Regions from separate parts of the Homo sapiens genome. Here region 2 is linked to region 1. The links come from fine-mapping of genetic effects on gene expression. A gene starts in region 1. The other region holds a variant in brackets. All regions are shown on one strand. Distances are between the middles of the regions.

Evidence for each region. PIP is the estimated chance that this variant, and not a neighbour inherited with it, causes the effect.
Region 2: its variant is fine-mapped to the expression of CNTNAP1 in whole blood (TOPMed, PIP above 0.99).

What each region holds. Positions count from the first base shown.
Region 1 is chr17:42,678,563-42,687,779 of GRCh38, reverse strand. It overlaps CNTNAP1 (contactin associated protein 1), which reads right to left and starts at 5,249. Exons shown (of 24, transcript NM_003632.3): 1 at 4,884-5,249; 2 at 3,858-3,959; 3 at 3,551-3,744; 4 at 2,642-2,789; 5 at 2,360-2,563; 6 at 1,639-1,823; 7 at 734-877; 8 at 1-60. The coding sequence starts at 4,950. It overlaps CCR10 (C-C motif chemokine receptor 10), which reads left to right and starts at 5,937. Exons shown (of 2, transcript NM_016602.3): 1 at 5,937-5,980; 2 at 7,163-8,891. The coding sequence starts at 5,957. The coding sequence ends at 8,227. RefSeq lists enhancers at 4,795-4,844, 5,105-5,154, 5,098-5,716, 6,935-7,783, 7,784-8,632 and 2 more and silencers at 3,715-4,009, 6,255-6,549.
Region 2 is chr17:42,883,355-42,892,571 of GRCh38, reverse strand. It overlaps LINC00671 (long intergenic non-protein coding RNA 671), which reads left to right. Exons shown (of 6, transcript NR_027254.1): 3 at 7,886-7,977. It also overlaps the pseudogene RNU6-287P. Among named protein-coding and RNA genes, the nearest start is that of LINC00671, 11 kb to the left of the region's middle. The variant C/T (reference allele first, on the strand shown) is at 4,560.

The sequences.
Region 1 (9,217 bases):
AGGGCCTCCGAAGTTGATAGGGTGCGGTACCGGGTCCAGGCAACGAAAAGCCACCTTACCCTAGGGGCAAAAGTGAAGACGCATCAACACCCGTGAGCCGCCTCTGCCTCAGCTGGGAATTCAGTTTTCACACCGGTCTAAGACCCTGGTCACCGCCCTCCTTCGGTGTTGGCGGGGGTGAGATCTCCAACCATGACGTGACCTCTTCCCCTCCAAGCTCGTCCATCTGTGGAGGGGGCCCCAACCCAGTCGGCCCTCGGAACTCTGCTCGCTTGCTCTCGCTGATCTCCACCGTCTGCGATTCGACCGCTTCTCTCCTTCCAGTATCGAGAGGCAATTTTGGACCACAGACCTGGCTCCTGCCAGCTTCCCAACAGAGCTCCAGAGTCGGAGAGGGTTGAGGGGGGCATATCAGAGAAGCCATCGGTTCAAGTCCCTACTCAGCCACCGTGCAGCTGCACGACCCCTGGACAAGCCACTCCCTGTGTCTGCGCCTTACTTTCTTCATCTATGAACTAAGAAGGTGATTGGACCCGACCACTGCTTCTTAACTAGGGGCCTGCGTGGCTCATGCACCTCAGGTGAGACCCGCTCCCCTCCCAACTTGAGCATCTGGCTGGGGACAGAGGGATTCTCCGCTTTTATCTGATGTTCAATATCTCTTCCCGCTCCACCTCTTTGCTTTCCACGACGCTTTGATATCCTGTCCTCCCAGACCCCCCTGCCCACTGGCCTCGAAGGTGATCCGGGAATGGCGCCGCACGGCCAGGTCTGCGATGTTGACGCGGTTGAAGATTACGTTTTCTATGCAGCCGCGGAAGTTATGCCGATAGGCCAGGTTCTTCCGCGCGGCGCCCACCAGACCTCCGATGAACATCTGCGGGAGGCGTGGGGAATGAGGCCTCTTGGGCACAGGAGGGCGCCTGCCTTTCTCGCGCGTCCCCGCCGTATGCTTTCCCAAATGCCAGATGGGGTTTTGTAAAAGACTTAAAACACACATTTCCCCAGTGTCGGTACTAAAGCTCGCTAGGCCTTTCAAGGCTTGAGTTCAAGCTCTGACTCCAACACAAATCGGCTGCACGCCCTTGGGCAAGTCAATTAGCCTGCCTGGGATTCTTATCTGCAGATGGGGTCAGGGTCTTTAACAACTCCACAAAGTTGTGGGAGGATCCAAGGGAACAATTTTCCTACCTTGCCTAGTCCCCAAAATCTGAATTTCCAAACCCCATCTCATTAGTTCTGAAATAGTGCCTGGGAGTCTGCATGCTAACAGCAACAACACCCACAAAAAAAAAAAAAAAAAAAAAAAACAGGCCTTTTTCTGGTGAGTGGCAAGTTTGCCAAGGGCTGCTAGGATATTCAGGAATTGGAATGCGAGGTCTTTGAAAAAAAAAATTTTTTTAAATAGAGGTAGGATGTCACTATGTTGCCCAGGTGAGTCTTGAACACCTGGCCTCAAGCAATCCTCCCACCTCAGCCTCCCAAAGTGCTGGGATTACAGGCATGAGCCACCACCCACAGCCTGAATGCCAGGTCTTTCCTCTGAGAGACAGAGGAAAAGAGAAAGGGAGAGACCGACCTGCACTCACTCATCCAGCATCTACCCTACCACGAAATAGCACCTCCCTAGTCTCTCACCTCAGTGTCCAGGTTCAGCCTCTCGAAGTCTCCATTGAGAATAAAGCGCTGCACATAGCCGTCCAGGGTGAAATTTACATCGCGGCCAAATCGGTCCACCCGCACATAGTGCCAGTGCTGGTCATTGAGGACTCCGCCTGCGCTCACGGTGGTGTGACCTGGTCTTGGCTGGATAGGGCTGCTGCCTGAGGGTGGGGCAGGACAGAGTGAAACCTCAAGCCAGGAGAACTCCATGGAGTCCAAGCTCCTAGGCAGAGCAGCAGCGTGTAACAAAGCCCAGGGCAATCAGGGAGAGTGGGCGAATAGATCAACAGCCATTGGCGAGTGTGTGACAGGGTAAGCCATTTAGCCTGGCTTCCTGTCTGTAAAACTGGGAACACATGAGCTGCTTCTATTTCATGTGCGGGTGTTATGAAAAGCTAATGAGATACAATGTGTGTGCGTCTGTGTGTGTGTGTTTACAAGGAGGGAACTGAGGCTCGGAAGTGCCCCATCCGAGGTCACATCTCTGTGTAGTGGTAGAGCTGAGACTGGAATCCAGTTCTCACTCAACTCCAGTGTTTTGCTAGCACCAAATGCTACAAGAAAGGGGCAGTTTGGTCCAGGCCTTAGAGAAGTGGAAGACCAGGCTGAGCGCGGATGCGCGGAGGAGGTGCCACGAGGAGGGCGGTGAGAGAGCTTCAGGGGTTGGCTCCGCATCGCACATGGTCGCCGAGCTCACCCAGGCTCATGTGCAGCAGCAGGTGTGCCCCCTCCAGCTCGAGCGTCACGTAGTCGCCCTGGGCGCCCTCGGCGTGCAGCAGAAGACCGTCCTTCTCCTCGGTCTTGAAGCTGAAGGCGAACACGTCCCACAGGCTTCGGCTGACCCCTCGCGGGAAGCGGTAGGAGATGGCATCGTCGCCGTCGAAATAGAGTATGTCGGCCTCTGCGCAAAGGACCGTAGGTGGGCCGGGAACTGGGGAGGCTGTCTCCCAGGCCCCCTCCGCGCTCTCTGCACACTTACTGTATGGGCAGCCATAGAGGCCGAGCCTCAGGCCGATCTTGCCGCGTGGGTTCCAGGCCAGGGGCACGATGCGGATGTAGCGCGCAGTGAAGTGGAAGTGCAGGTCATGGCGCACCACCGCCGACTCGTTCACGTTACCAAAGAAGGTCTGCGGGGGTGGAGGAGAGTAGTAACCACGTCCTGCCCTCTGCTTCTTTTTTTTATTTTATTTTTTGAGACAGAGTCTCGCTCTGTCGCCCAGGCTGGAGTGCGGTGGTACGATCTCGGCTCACCGCAACCTCTGCCTCCCGGGTTCAAACAATTCTCTTCCTCAGCCTCCCAAGTAGCTGGGATTACAGGCGCCCGCCACTACGCCCGGCTGATTTTTTTGTATTTTTCATAGAGACGGGGTTTCACCATGTTGGCCAGGCTGGTCATGAACTCCTGACCTCGTGATCCACCTGCCTCGGCCTCCCAAAGTGCTGGGATTACAGGCGTGAGCCACTGCGCCCGGCCCCCCTCTGCTTCTTTCTCCATAGCCTCCCAGCCCACAACTTTCACACCCAGCCAATCTCGACTTCTGGAAAGTAAACACTCCTTGGTCTTCCCTGCTTGGCGGCTTTGCCCGCACAGTTTCCATAAAGTGCCCTGTCCCACAATCCTATTATTTCCTCAGACCTGAAATCAAATGTCACCTCCTTAGGAAGCTCTCCCAGGTTTTACCCTAAAGTGTGTTAAACCCTGTGAACCGAGTGTTTCGCGCACGTCCTAAGCTGACAGTCCCTCTGGACAGAGTCCCTGGAGTGGAGTCACTGCTCCTTGTCCGAGCCCTCACCACCACCCCCTCCATTTTCCCAGAGGCTGGTGCCCGGCCCAGAGCCTGGAGCAGAGGAAGCTCCCCAAGTGTTACCGCCTTGGCGCCCAGAGTACCGAGTTGTGCCCTCGCTGGTAGAACGGTGTCCAGCTGTCCACTCGGTCGCCGTAGAGTAGCATGTAACGTGTGACCCAGTCCCAAGAATTAAAGGAGCCCTGTGTGGCCACGGCCCGGATCCGGTGCTTCTTCATTAAGTCTATCTGGAGCCAGGGATTCGGATCCCCAATCCGTGGTGACCACCCGCTTATGCCTATAGAAAGGACAGGAGCTTTAACCGGCTATCCCTCTCCCCGAAGTCCTCCGGAGGCCCCCACCCTTCCGCGGTGCGCTGCCAGTTGGCAGCTGATGTTCCGCGGAGCTCACCGTGCAGCCTGGCGAATCTCGGCGCAGTAAGGAGACTGTAGTAGGAGGAGGCGCCCAGGGAGCGTGCATACAGGGGACCCACCAGCTCCTCGTCGCAGCCGTCTAGGGTAGGGAAACCGACTGTTAGTCAGCGCTGGCCCCTCCCAGACCCTTCCAAAGGCCGGCCCACTTAGCGACCGAAGCTTCCCCTTCCGTGCCCCCAACCCCCGCCCCCAGAGGCACACCCAGCCCTACCTTAAAGCCATCTATTCAATCCTGGCTGCAGCAACAGCTGCATGCTCAGAGGAGGCTACCTTCTCCTTCTAGGCAAACCCCTAGGCTACACCTATAGGCCCAAGGCCAGACCCTCCCTAGCTAGCCCAATACCTGCCCTGGTTTAGTACTTTCCCAAACTCAATCCTAAACCTCAGCATCTTCCACAACCTAAGTCAACCCAAGACACCAATCCAGCTCCAACCCTAGCCTCAATCCAACTCGGCCCCCAAAACCTGCACCATCCCCAAATACAGGCCTTGCACCCAACCTCAGCCAGTGCTAGCACCATCACCAGCTCCATGTCCAGCCTTAGCATCAGTCAGGGGCACCAGCTCCTGCTTGGATCCCTGCCACAAAACCCAGCCCCAGCCACAAACCCCAGCCCTAGCCACAAACCCCACCCCTTGGCCAGCTCCAAAGTCCAGCCTTAAGCCCTGGCAAAACCTTAATCCTAGTATCGGTCACCAGTATACACTTATCCCCCAGCCCTAGCCTCAAACCCAGGCACCAGCTCCTGCTTGGATCCCAACCCCAAATCCCTGCCCGCTGACTTCATCCTCTTCCCAGAGCCCAGCCCCAGCCCCGGGCGCGCGCGGCAGCCTCAGAGCTGCAATGCGGAGCGCGGGGGAGAGGCAGGAAAAGATGAGAGCCAGCGGGCGCGCGCCGGCCGGGAAGGACCCGCGACCACCCAGCCGCAATGCGGTTCGGGGCCGCCCTGCAGGCTCTGGACTCCTGGGCCCAACCCCACCTGCCTCCAAGCCCAACACTCACAGTAGCCCCAGCCCTCGGCTCCTGAGACCGCGGCGAGCAGGATGCAGAAGAGCCGGAGATGCATCATGCAGGGCTGACGGTCCCGGCAGCCGCCTCCCTGTGAACGGCTCCGGCTAGGGCTCGAGTTCTGGCTTGGGCTCCAAGCTCTCCTCCTGGGGTTTGCAGCAGACCGCTCTCTCCTCCTTACCCACCCTTCCCTCCCTCTCTCCTTTCGCCCCCAAGCGCTCTGTCTCTCCTCTCTCTTTTCTCTCTCTCTCTCTCTGGTTCCTGGTCCTCCGCTCTTCTCTCTCTATCCTCTCCTTTCCACCCTCTTTCCTCTCACCTCCCCCCTTCCCCAGCCTCTGTCTCCTGGCACGCGCCGGTTTCCCGGACCCCGCGCAAGCGCGTGCCTCAGCCCTGCTGCGAAAGGGCGGGGGTAGAGAGCCTCTCGCCACCGGGAAAACCCCAAGTAACCCGAGGCTGCCCGGGACTAGGGCCACAGGAGTGAGGACAGGGAACCTAGGGCCAGAAGCATCCTGAAAATTTCAAGAAAAGGGAGGTGGTTTGGGGGAGGGGTGCCTGGAAATGGAATGAAGGGTAAGTAAAAGAATCTTAACATTTTCGGAAGGCAAATTATGCTCTAGGAGTGGTGCTGGGCACTGTGAATTTAGCATTTTTGCCCTACTCCACTTTGCAGATGAAAAACCTCAGGCTCAGAGAGGTCAAGAAACTTAGTCAATATCACACAGCAAATGATTATATTCCGAAGCCCGTTCTTTCTTCACTGACAAAGACAGTAAATTATTTTTTCTTTCTTTCGTTCATTCTTTTTTCTTTCTTTCCTTCCTTTTTTTCTTTCTTTCTTTCTTTCTTTCCTCTTTCCTTCCTTTCTTCTTCTTTTTTTTTTTTTCGTAAAATCCAGATCCTGCACAAGAGAGTGAAGTCTTTTGGAGGAGGTGGAATGGGAAAGTGACCCCGTAGACCCTAATCCCCACCTCCCTCTCGGCCCCTCTCCCCGCCTCTTCCTTCCTGTCCCGCTAGTAGTTTAACTTCTACCCCCTGTGGCTATACCTCAGAAACCTGTGTAGCCAGAGATGGGGACGGAGGCCACAGAGCAGGTGGGAGTGGGGGCAGGGAGGGGGAGAAGGGTTACAGAGAGGGAGGAGACAGGGAAGGAATGGGATTCCCCACCTGGCAATGGGCCTCTGCCATCCTATGGCTTATTCAGGATTCTTGGCGCTGTCTCAGACTAGGGGTCCTCCAGATAAATGGGCTGGTGGTGTGAGGCTGGGGTTGTGGGACAGGGACTAGGGCTGAGGGGAAAGGCGGGTTGAACCTAGAGGTCCAGGGTCCCACCTGGGCCCTGAAAACCTGAGTCCCAACCCTGGAGACCCCCTTGGCATGAGTGGTTCAGTGTGCTGGTATTGGAGGTACAGGGAAGGTGGGTATGGAAGGGAAAGAAGAGAAACAGAAACCCACTCCAGACGGAGGTTGGAGTCCAGGGCTCAGGTCTGAGGCAAAGCCTGCATATGGGCATCCTTCCAGGAGAGGGCGCTGCAAAGGGAACTGAAGCTGTAGGATTTATTAATAATACAAACTTTGGGCTGGGCGTGGTAGCTCAGGCCTGTAATCCCAGTACTTTGGGAGGCCAAGGTGGGCGGATCACCTGAGGTCAGGAGTTCGAGACCATCCTGGCCAACATGGTGAAACCCCATCTCTACTAAAAATACAAAAATTAGCTGGGCGTGGTGGTGGGCGCCTGTAGTCCCAGCTACTTGGGAGGCTGAGGCAGGAGAATCTCTTGAACCCGGAGGCGGAGGTTGCAGTGAGCCGAGATCGTGCCACTGCACTCCAGCCTGGGCGACAGAGCAAGACTCTGTCTCCAATAATAATAATAATAAATAATAATAATAATACAAACTTTGTATTATGGCCTTTGGAGAACACAGGTTCTCCCCATCCATTATTTTCCATATTGCCATCTTCACAGCAAACCTTGAGAGGTGGGCTGGTCAGGATTTATAATCTCAACATTACAGGTTAGGTAACTGAGGTCTAGAAAGAGCAAGTGGCTTGCTCAAGGTCACCCAGGAAGCTGGAAGCAGAGGTAGGAGGGGTGCAAGGGAAGCCAAGGCCTGCTGAAGGTGTGCTAGGAAGAGTCTGGAGAAGAGCTTATGTCTCCCCGTGTACTGTTACATCTGGCCACACAGGAGCTCTCAGCTTGGAAGGCAAGTGTGGGCGGGGGAGTTGTGTGGTCAGATGTGTCTCATAAGATCCCGCCTCTCATTTGACCCTCCCAGGTTTCCTGGGGCCATTACTCTGGGGATGAAGAGGACGCATACTCGGCTGAGCCACTGCCGGAGCTTTGCTACAAGGCCGATGTCCAGGCCTTCAGCCGGGCCTTCCAACCCAGTGTCTCCCTGACCGTGGCTGCGCTGGGTCTGGCCGGCAATGGCCTGGTCCTGGCCACCCACCTGGCAGCCCGACGCGCAGCGCGCTCGCCCACCTCTGCCCACCTGCTCCAGCTGGCCCTGGCCGACCTCTTGCTGGCCCTGACTCTGCCCTTCGCGGCAGCAGGGGCTCTTCAGGGCTGGAGTCTGGGAAGTGCCACCTGCCGCACCATCTCTGGCCTCTACTCGGCCTCCTTCCACGCCGGCTTCCTCTTCCTGGCCTGTATCAGCGCCGACCGCTACGTGGCCATCGCGCGAGCGCTCCCAGCCGGGCCGCGGCCCTCCACTCCCGGCCGCGCACACTTGGTCTCCGTCATCGTGTGGCTGCTGTCACTGCTCCTGGCGCTGCCTGCGCTGCTCTTCAGCCAGGATGGGCAGCGGGAAGGCCAACGACGCTGTCGCCTCATCTTCCCCGAGGGCCTCACGCAGACGGTGAAGGGGGCGAGCGCCGTGGCGCAGGTGGCCCTGGGCTTCGCGCTGCCGCTGGGCGTCATGGTAGCCTGCTACGCGCTTCTGGGCCGCACGCTGCTGGCCGCCAGGGGGCCCGAGCGCCGGCGTGCGCTGCGCGTCGTGGTGGCTCTGGTGGCGGCCTTCGTGGTGCTGCAGCTGCCCTACAGCCTCGCCCTGCTGCTGGATACTGCCGATCTACTGGCTGCGCGCGAGCGGAGCTGCCCTGCCAGCAAACGCAAGGATGTCGCACTGCTGGTGACCAGCGGCTTGGCCCTCGCCCGCTGTGGCCTCAATCCCGTTCTCTACGCCTTCCTGGGCCTGCGCTTCCGCCAGGACCTGCGGAGGCTGCTACGGGGTGGGAGCTGCCCCTCAGGGCCTCAACCCCGCCGCGGCTGCCCCCGCCGGCCCCGCCTTTCTTCCTGCTCAGCTCCCACGGAGACCCACAGTCTCTCCTGGGACAACTAGGGCTGCGAATCTAGAGGAGGGGGCAGGCTGAGGGTCGTGGGAAAGGGGAGTAGGTGGGGGAACACTGAGAAAGAGGCAGGGACCTAAAGGGACTACCTCTGTGCCTTGCCACATTAAATTGATAACATGGAAATGAGATGCAACCCAACAACTGTTACTATTTTTGAGTCACCGACTTGGAAGTGATTTGTGGCGGGGCAGAACCGGTGGGTTAACACCCCGCCCCCGCCCCACCCCCCGCCCTGCCCCGCGCTTGGCTCTCTGAGTGGAAGACGCTGAGGGCCTGGGTGGGGGTGGGGGGCTGCTGAGTCTGCTAAAGCTCTAGCCACTGACACCCCCTCCACCGTCACCTGGCCTCAGCCAACAGAGGTGAGGTGGGAAAGCTGCCAGGCAAGGAGGGGCGGTGGTTCCTCTTGCAATACTGTAAGGAAGAGCTTTCTAACAACCAGAGCGCTCTCCAGTAATGGCTGCCTTAGCAAATACTGAGTTCCCGCTATTGGAATGTTCAGACTGTCGGGGACGCTGTGGGCCTTTGCGTGGTGTGGGGGGAGGGGGAGGGGCAGGGGATTCCCGTTTTTGGTGGGCGTTTGGATTTCATAACCACTTTACAATCCCTTCCTAGTGTCTGTGATGGAAAGAAAAAATGAAAAAATGAATTGTAAAATTTGAGTTGAAGTTTTTCCACCTTGAAGAAAAACCTAGGAGGGATTGCAATCTGCAAATTTCCAGAGTAGTTATCACGGGTGTGGTGGGGGTGAGGGATATTTGCTGTTCTCCATCTTCTCTGGGGACTGGGTCAGAGGAAATGCACTGAGCTGGCCGGAAAGAGAGAGGTTGGATATGGGAAAAAACTTCTCTGCAGGCAAGGGCCTGGGATCCAGACCTGGAAGATGGTTGTGGTATCTCCATTCCTAGGTAATCTCTCAGTACAGGCCACTCTCATGTGGAGAGAGGCCACGGCCGAGATGGCCTCCTAGACACGCTCGCATT
Region 2 (9,217 bases), 200 kb before region 1:
TCTCACTCTGTTACCCAGGCTGGAGTACAGGGGCACAATCTTGGCTCATTGGAACCTCCTCCTCCCGGGTTCAAGTGATTCTTGTGCCTCAGCCACTTGAGTAGCCAGGACTACAGGCACAGGCCACCAGGGCCTGACTAATTTTTGTTTTTTTTTCAGTAGAGATGGGGTTTCACCACATTGGCCAGGCTAGTCTCGAACTCCCAAACTCAGGCGATCTACCCGCCTCGGCCTCCCAAAGTTCTGGGATTACAGGAGTGAGCCTAAAATATTTTCAAAAGTAATACACTCACATTATTAAAAAAATTCAGAGTTCAAAAGAGTATTCTGTGAAGCCAGTCTTCCCCTACCTCTGAATACCTTTTAAACACCAGGGCAGCCAGAACCCAGCCTGATTTGAGGGGCACCATGAGTCAGAGAAGCCCCCATAATTCTCTAGTGAAAGCTCCTCACACAGAACCTGTCGCAATCCAGATGGGGTCATCCCTTCTACCCTCTTTCATTCCCACGTTTTCCTCCCCACCGGCTCTGGCCATGCAGTCCTTTAATCAACTCTTTCTTTAAAAGCAGGGGAAATTCCATCCCAACCAAAACGCCCGTGTTGTACAGTCAGTTATTCGTCCTCCCCTCTTCCAGAGCCAGCTGGGACAGATAATTAGGAAATTAGTAGTCTTGGACCCTTTAACCCACACCTTACCCCCTCTGAGAGTTCTCAAATGAGGACCTTGACTCAGAGAAGGGAAGAGGTGAGGCCCAGAATTGTCATGAAAATAAACAGTGAGGCTCCTAGGTCCCCAGGCCTGGGGGTGGCTATAGAGCTATTCTGAGCTGTGAAAACACAGCAGTACTCTACTAGCAGTAAACAGCCGCCTGTCCCGCCAGCGCCTGTCTGCCTGGTGGTGCCTGATCTCCAGCCAGCAGGCCAGAGAGACAGGGAGAGGAGCAGGGAGAGTCTAGCGTGCCTCTCTTCTTTAGGGTGGAAGGGAACAGCAGTGTTTATTTTTAACATTTCATTCACTCTAGTGGGTGTGAAGTGGAAAGAGAGGGTCATGTAAGTCTAGGGGTTCTCTCCAACTTCGAATCCCAGAAAGCAGGATGCCTGTTGCTCCCTCCTCAAAGCCTGGGGACTTCAGTCATCGCTTTGGCAGCACATATACTAAAATTGCAGTGGTACAGGGAAGATTAGTGTGGGCCCTGCACAAGTCGTGAAATTCGTGAAGCATTCCATACAAAATTTAAATTAAAATAAATAAAATATAAAAAATAAAGCTTGGACCAGCCTCAGTTACATGGCAAAACCCCACCTCTACAAAAAGAAAAAAAAAAAAGAAAAAAGAAACCCACAAAAATTAAACCCACAAAAAACCCCCTAAAAAAAATTAGCTGGGTGTGGTTGTATGTGCCTGTAGTCCCAGCTACTTGAGAGGCTGAGGTGGGAGAACCACTTGAGCCAGGAGGCAGAGGTTGCAATGAGCTGAGATCCCACCACTGCACTCTAGCCTGGGTGACAGAGTGAGACAAACTAACAAATAAAAATAAAGCCTGGGGGCCAGGTGCAGTGGCTCGCGCCTCTAATCCTAGCAGTTTGGGAGGCCGAGGTGGGCGGATCACGAGGTCAGGAGACGGAGGCCATCCTGGCCAACATGGTGAAACCCCGTCTCTACTAAAAATGCAAAAATTAGCTGGGTATGGTGGCATGCCCTGTAGTCCCAGCTACTCAAGAGGCTGAGGCAAGAGAATACCTTGAACCCAGAAAGCGGAGGTTGCAGTAAGCCGAGATCACACCACTGCACTCCAGCCTGGGGACAGAGTGAGACTCTGTCTCAAAAAAATAAAATAAAATAAAATAAAAAAAGAAACCCTGGGCACTTTGGGAGGCCGAGGCGGGTGGATCATGAGGTCAGGAGATCAAGACCATCCTGGCTAACACGGTGAAACCCCGTCTCTACTAAAAACACAAAAAATTAGCTGGGCATGGTGGCGGGCGCCTGTAGTCCCAGCTACTAGGGAGGCTGAGGCAGGAGATTGGCGTGAACCCAGGAGGCAGAGCTTGCAGTGAGCCAAAATCGCACCACTGCACTCCAGCCTGGGCGACAGAGCGAGACTCCGTCTCAAAAAAAAAAAAAGAAAAAAAGAAAAGAAAGCCTGGGGACTTCAGCCTCCTCTGCTCTCCTAGGAAGTCACCTGTGACCTCCTCATTGTCAAATCAGCTGGTTGGCCTCTACTCATCTTTCTTCTTCCTTAATCATTTGGCCACATCTAATACTTGACTGTTAAGCACCTTGAAACACTGTGTTCAGTGTTGCTTTGACAAAGTCTCCTCTCCTTTCTCTTCCTCCTCCTTCCTTAGCATGACGTTAGACCTTGGTTGGACACCACCTGGATGTCCCATACAGTCCCCACATCCATAGGGTCCCTTCACACCTGTTGTTGCTCAGACTCCCCTGCTTTGTAAATGAATCTCCTGCTCTCTGCCATCCTCTGGGCAGTGAGCCTGGCAACTTCGGAGCCAACCTTGACACCTCTTCATGTCACATTTGCAGTCACTCATCAGGATCTGTCCAGATACTTTCTACTCGTGCTGCCCCGGGCCAACCCCATTGCCTAGGCCCGCCCCCTCCCCGCCGCCCGCCCACAGTCCCTTCATTACCTGTGATCACCTCTCCTCTTCTTGCTCCCCACCCCAAGCCATCCTATAGAATACAGGCCAAGGAGTCTTCTTACAATACAGTTCTTTTCACTTGTCACCTGAAAAATATTCAGTGGCTCCCCATTGCCTACAGAATGAAGTTCAAACTGAAGTTCAAACACAAGCTCACCTGCATTGGACCCCAGCTTATCTTTCTAGTTTTATGCTGTGCAGTTCCCCTTGATGGCCACACACCAGATATATTAGATAAGTTTGGATTTCCCAAACATGCCTTGGTTTTTCCAACTTTGCTTTTTCCTCCACCTGGAATATCATTTTCCCCATGTCTGTATGACCAGATTCTAACCACACTTCAAGGTCAAGAAAATAAAGCCTTCTCAACCCATTGACCTCCACCCCTCATTAGCTGCAAAAGATCTGTCTGGTTTGAACTCCTACGTTGGGGCACTTATCGCATTCAGACCTTGCATCATAATGGTTTTGCTTGCATCTTAACCTGCTATCCTGAGCCCCGAGGGCCAAGAAAGCATTCCTTCCAGCCTCCAGAACTGAGCTCTGCTTACATGTCTGGTGCCCAGTATAGTACACTGTTCGCACGGCTGTGAAAATGCTCCCATCCCTGACGTGTGCTCTTTTGCATTGTGACTTTGCCTCTCTTCCCATCAAGATGTAAATGTCTTCATCCTTTGAATCTGGGCTTGATCTTGTGACTTGCCTTGGCTAATGGGACATTAACAAATGTGATATAAGTAGGCCAGGTGTGGTGGCCCACACCCATAATCCCAGCACTTTGGGGAGGCCGAGGCGGGCAGATCACTTGAGGTCAGGAGTTCAAGACCAGCCTGGCCAACATGGTGAAACCCTGTCTCTACTAAAAATACGAAAATTAGCCGGCTCTGGTGGCGGGGACCTGCAGTCCCAGCTACTCAAGAGGCTGAGGGAGGAGAATTGCTTGAACCTGGGAGGCGGAGATTGCCGTGGGCTGAGATCGCGCCACTGCACTCCAGCCTGGGTGACAGAGTGAGACTGTCTCAGAAAAACAAACAAACAACAAAAAACAAATGTGATCTAAGCAAAAGCTTGAAAAGCCAGGGCTTACCCTCTTTGGGCTACAATTGGAACCCCAGCTCACAAGGGGGAGAAGTCCGGGCAGCCTCCTGGAGACAGGTTACTACAACATGGGGCCTGTCTGACAGCCACCCCCAGTCACCAGCGCTGAGAGTGAGGCCGCCTTAGACCACCCAGCCCCAGTCCATGTGAGTGATCCATGGAGCAATCCCAGGAGAATCTGGCAGAACTGCCCAACAGAGCCTGAGCCAGGTTGCTGACCTACAGAACTGTGAGCAAGGTATTGGTTTGTTGTTTTAAGCCACTATGTTTTCGGGTGGTTTCCTTTTTCTTTCCTTCTATTTTTTTTTTTTAGAGACAGTGTTTTGCTCTGCTGCCTAGGCCAGAGTGCAATGGTGCAATCCATCATAGCTCACTGCAGCCCTGAATTCCTGAGCTCAAGAGATCATCCTGCCTCAGCCTCCCAAGTAGCCAGGACTACAAGTGCTTGCTACCACACCCGGCTAACTTAACAAAATTTCTTTGGTAGAAACAGGGTCTTACTGGAGTGTCCATGCTGGTCTTGAACTCCTGGGCTCAAGGAATCCTCCTGCATCGGCCTCCCAAAGTATGGGGATTATAGATGTGAGCTACCGTGGTTTCCTTACACAGTCACTTCAATACCTCATAGATGCTACTTAATAAAATATTAAATAATAGCTCACATTCATTGAGCATTTACTATAAGCTAGGGACTTGTTCTGAAAAATTACATGGGCCAGACACGGTGGCTCACGCCTGTAATCCCAGCACTTTGGGAGGCCAAGGCGGGCGGATCATGAGGTCAGGAGATTGAGACCAT[C/T]CTGGCTAACATGGTGAAACCCCGTCTCTACTAAAAATACAAAAAATTAGCCAGGTGTGGTGGTGGGCGCCTGTAGTCCCAGCTACTCCGGAGGCTGAGGCAGAAGAATGGCATGAACCTGGGAAGCAGAGCTTGCAGTGAGCCGAGATCATGCCACTGCACTCAAGCCTGGGTGACAGAACGAGACTCCATTTCAAAAAAAAAAAAAAAGAAAAATTACATGGATTTACTAATTTAATTTTCATAAAAATCCTGAGGTAGATTTTATTACTGTTCCCCTTTTACAAGTGAGGAAAGTGAAGTCCAGAGAAGTTAAATAACTTGTTCAAGGTCACATGTGTCACATGTGCTGGATCCAAACCCCAGGAACCTAGTTCCAGAAGCCACACTGTAAACCACTATACCGCATTGCCTCTGCTTACGCAGATTGAGGAGAACATGACTGATTTGCAGCCCCCAAAACACCCATCTTCACCCACATGTCAAATTCTATATTATTTTGTGGTCCAATTTCTAGCCTATGCTTTTTTTTTTTTTTTTTTTGAGACAGCGTTTTCCTCTTGTTGCCCAGGCTGGAGTGCAATGGCGCGATCTTGGCTCACTGCAGACTCCGCCTCTCAGGTTCAAGTGATTCTCCTGGCTCAGCCTCCCGAGTAGCTGGGATTACAGGCATGTGCCACCATGCCCAGCTAATTTTTTTTTATATTTTTAGTAGAGATGGGTTTCACCATGTTGTCCAGGCTGGTCTTGACCTCCTGACCTCAGGTGATCCACCTGCCTCGGCCTCCCAAAGTGCTGGGATTACAGGCACGATCCGCTGTGCCTGGCCTAGCCTATGCTTCTAATCTTCCCACACCCTGCCCTCTCAGGTCTACCTCCAGGCTCTGGGCTACTCCTGGCCTGTTTCAGTGACAGCCCATTGTGGGGCATCGATTTATAGATCTGCCAGCAACCGCCTGTCCAGAAACCCTTTGGCTCCATCTCCCTCTTCCTGCTGCCTCTGCTGCATTGCTGGTCCAGCGGTGCAGGTCTCATCTGGAAAGCAAACGCCTGGGCTCAGCGTGTCAGTGCTGACCGACCTTTGGCCCTGTGTCCTGGCTTGACCCGTGCAGCCAGGGTGATTTTTCACTTAGGATCTTTGGATGTCCTTAGAGCTTCTCTTTTGAAGTAGTCCAATGAGCAAATGGATATGATGTGGCTTTTAAAGAGAAAAACATGACTCATGTATAACAATGTTTACTATTTATTCAAATTTCAAAGATGTATTTAAGCATCCACACACGGGCACAACACCATGCTGGGCACCAGGCCACCAAAGCCAGGTTCAGTGTGGGGAGTGAGGGGAGGACACACGTGGTCAAGGAACTAGAGTTCAGTTTGTGAACCTCCATGGCAGAGTTCTGTCCAAAGTACTATGGGAGCAGAGACAACAAAGTAAATAATGTTGTTCAGGGAAAGGTCGAGAGAGTGGGATTCGAGTTGGGTTTTAGACAGTGAATAAGCTGTCACTAGATGGAGAAGGAAGAGGAAAGAGGAAGGAAGCAGAGGAAGGAAGGGAGGGAGGAGTCGGAACACATGGGCAGAGGCTTAGTGGGTGGGAATAGGCTGTTTGAAGGAGGACACACGTCTGGGGTGTCTGGGGTGTAAGCATCACGATGACTGCGGTGTAGGGACTGAACCCAGGTATGTGAATGACCTAATATTCCCTGCAGAGAGTGAGAAGCTCTGTGGATTTATAAGAGGGATATTGGCCAGGGAAAAACTATAGGAGGGGGCCAGGCATAGTTGCTCACACCTATAAACCCAGTGCTTTCAGAGGCCAAGGCAGGAAGATCCATTGAGCTCAAGGTTCAAGACCAGCCTGGGCAACATAAGGAGACTCTGTCTCTACAAAATATTTAAAAATTATCTGGGTATGGTGGTGCACACTTGTAATCCCAGTGACTCAGGAGGCTGAGGCAGGAGGATTGCTTGGGCCTGGGAGGCTGAGGCTGCAGTGAGCTGTGATCGCACCACTGCACTCCAGCCTGAGTGATGGAGCGAGACCCTGTTGAAAAAAAAAAAAAAAGCCAGTGGTGGTGGCATGCGTTTATAGTCCCAGCTACTCAGGAGGCTGAGTTGGGAGGATCACTTGAGCCCAGGAGGTTTAGGCTGCAGTGAGCCAAGATTGAACCACTGCACTCCAGTCTGGGTGACACAGAAACACCTTGTCTCAGAAAACAAACAGGCTGGGCACAGTGGCTCAAGCCTGTAATCCCAGCACTTTGGGAGGCTAAGGTGGGTAGATCACCTGGGGTCAGGAGTTCGAGACCAGCCTGAACAACATGGTGAAACCCCATCTCCATTAAAAATACAAAAATTAGCTGAGCGTGGTGGCGGGCGCCTGTAATCCCAGCTACTCAATAAGCTGAGGCAGGAGAATCACTTCAACCTGGAGGCGGAGGTTGCAGTGAACCAAGATCGCGCCACTGCATTCCAGCCTGGGTGACAGAGTGAGACTCTGTCTCAAAAACAAAAACAAAAACAAAACAAAACAACAACAAAAACAAAACAATACAAAAAGCCAAAACTATAGGAGAGGAGGGAAGGAGGCGAGGAATTTGCTGACATGGAGTCTCTGCTCTGAAAGTTAGACGTGAAGTCCGTGGCTAGGCTGGTTGCATCAGATGAGGCTGGCTGACATCTCCCAAGATATCTCAAGATGGTTTATTGGTGAATTCACCCCACTCCAAGGGAGAAGCCTGAATCAGAAACCAGATTCCTCAGCTCACCAATGGGAATTGTCTTTCAGGGAAGGTCTATATATACCAAAATTACACCTGAAGGTCAATCTGTTGATTTACTGTAACTGTCAAAGCAAAAGTAATTCTTATTAGAATGTCAATTAGTTCATTTACAAAAAGAGATGTAAGTGATGTGTCCATTTTCTTCCCATCACCATGATGTGGTGGGAAGCTGGCCTGTCGAGCTGGGAATCAGAACCAGCAGTTGGTCACAATATAGCTTCAATAAGGCCCGATGACTCCATGTGCATGGCTAAAGTGCCTCTAGGACAGGACGTGTCCTGGCCCTGGCCAGGTCCTCTGCTCCAAATGTGGCTGATTGTCACTGTCAGGGCAGGCTCTGTGATGCTCTCTTTCTGAGGGAGACGGGGTCTTCTCACTCTGTCGCCCAGGCTGTAGTGCAGTGGCATGATCTTGGCTAACTGCAGCCTCTGCCTCCCAGGCTCAAATGATCCTCCCACCTCAGCCTCCCTAGTAGCTGGGACCACAGGTGCATGTCACCATCCTGGCTAATTTTTTTTTTTTTTTTTGGTATTTTTGTAGAGAGAGGGTTTTGCCATGTTGCCAGGCTGGTCTCGAACTCCTGGACTCAAGTGATCTGCCTGCCTCAGCCTCCCAAAGTGCTGGAATTATAGGTGAGACACTGTGCCTGGCCCCTTTCTGCACCTTCTGATGGACACATTCTTTATGTCTTAGACTCTCTAGTCAGCTTCCTCTTGGGAGGCTTGGAACTGAACTACCATCTCCAGAGTTCTCCCAACCTTGGCTACACAGTAGAATCACCCGGGGAAATTTAAAAGCCAGTCATGTCTGTGGTTTGCCCCCAGAGGCTCTGATCATATCAGGCTGAGGCGCAGTCCGAGTATGTGGAGTTTTACAAGCTTCCCAGGTGATTTCAATGTGCAGTCAAGGTTGAGCACCTTTGTGAAAAGCAGCTCTGCATATTTCTGCCCTTGTCATTTGAGTGATGACTTTGCTCTGAGAGGGTCACTTAATATGGATCAGGTGCCAAGGGTTTCTCAAGCATTACCTTGTTTCATTCTTTTTTTTTTTCTTACAATATTCAGATGAGTCTGATACCTTGTTTAATTCTTCAAACAGGCCTACCAGGCAGTGGAAAAAGAGCCACGGCCCAGGGAAGGCCGTGAGGTGTAATTCTGCAAAGATCTGGGTTCACTCCCAGCCCCACCTTTTACCAGCCAGATGACTGTGGGCATGTTTCCTAATCTCTCTGAATTGTAGTTTCTGCATCTGTGAAATGGGTGTAATTAACATCTGCCTTTCAAGGTTGTTATGCGGATTAAGTGAAACAAAGATGGAAATTATCTGGCCCAGAGTATTCTGTCCTGTACTGGCTTTTCCTTCTCAATAGGAGAATTGGGAGTGACAGACATCACATTCCTTGGAGGTCCTCGAGAAAGGGAGAATTCCCCATCATATTCTGACCCGGAGATGTAAAGTTAAGAGGCATAAGGGGCTGGGTACTGTGGCTCATGCTTGTAATCCTAGCACTTTGGGAGGCCAAGGCAGATGGAATGCCTGAGCTCAGGAGTTTGAGACCAGCCTGGGCAACATGGCGAAACCCCATTTCTACTAAAAATACAAAAATTTGCTGGGGATGGTGGTGCGTGCCTGTAGTCCCAGCCATTTGGGAGGCTGAGGCTCAAGAATCGCTTAAGCCCGGGAAGCAGAGGTTGCAATGAGCCGAGATCATGGCACTTGCACTCCAACCTGGGCAACAGAGCAAAACTCCGTCTCAAAAAAAAAAAAAGTGGTATAAGAGACATGCAGCATGGAGGTGTTTGAGACCCGGGCCCTACTGAGAATGCTACAGCCTCTTTCCCTTCATATGATGAGGTTTCTGTGGCAGCTACA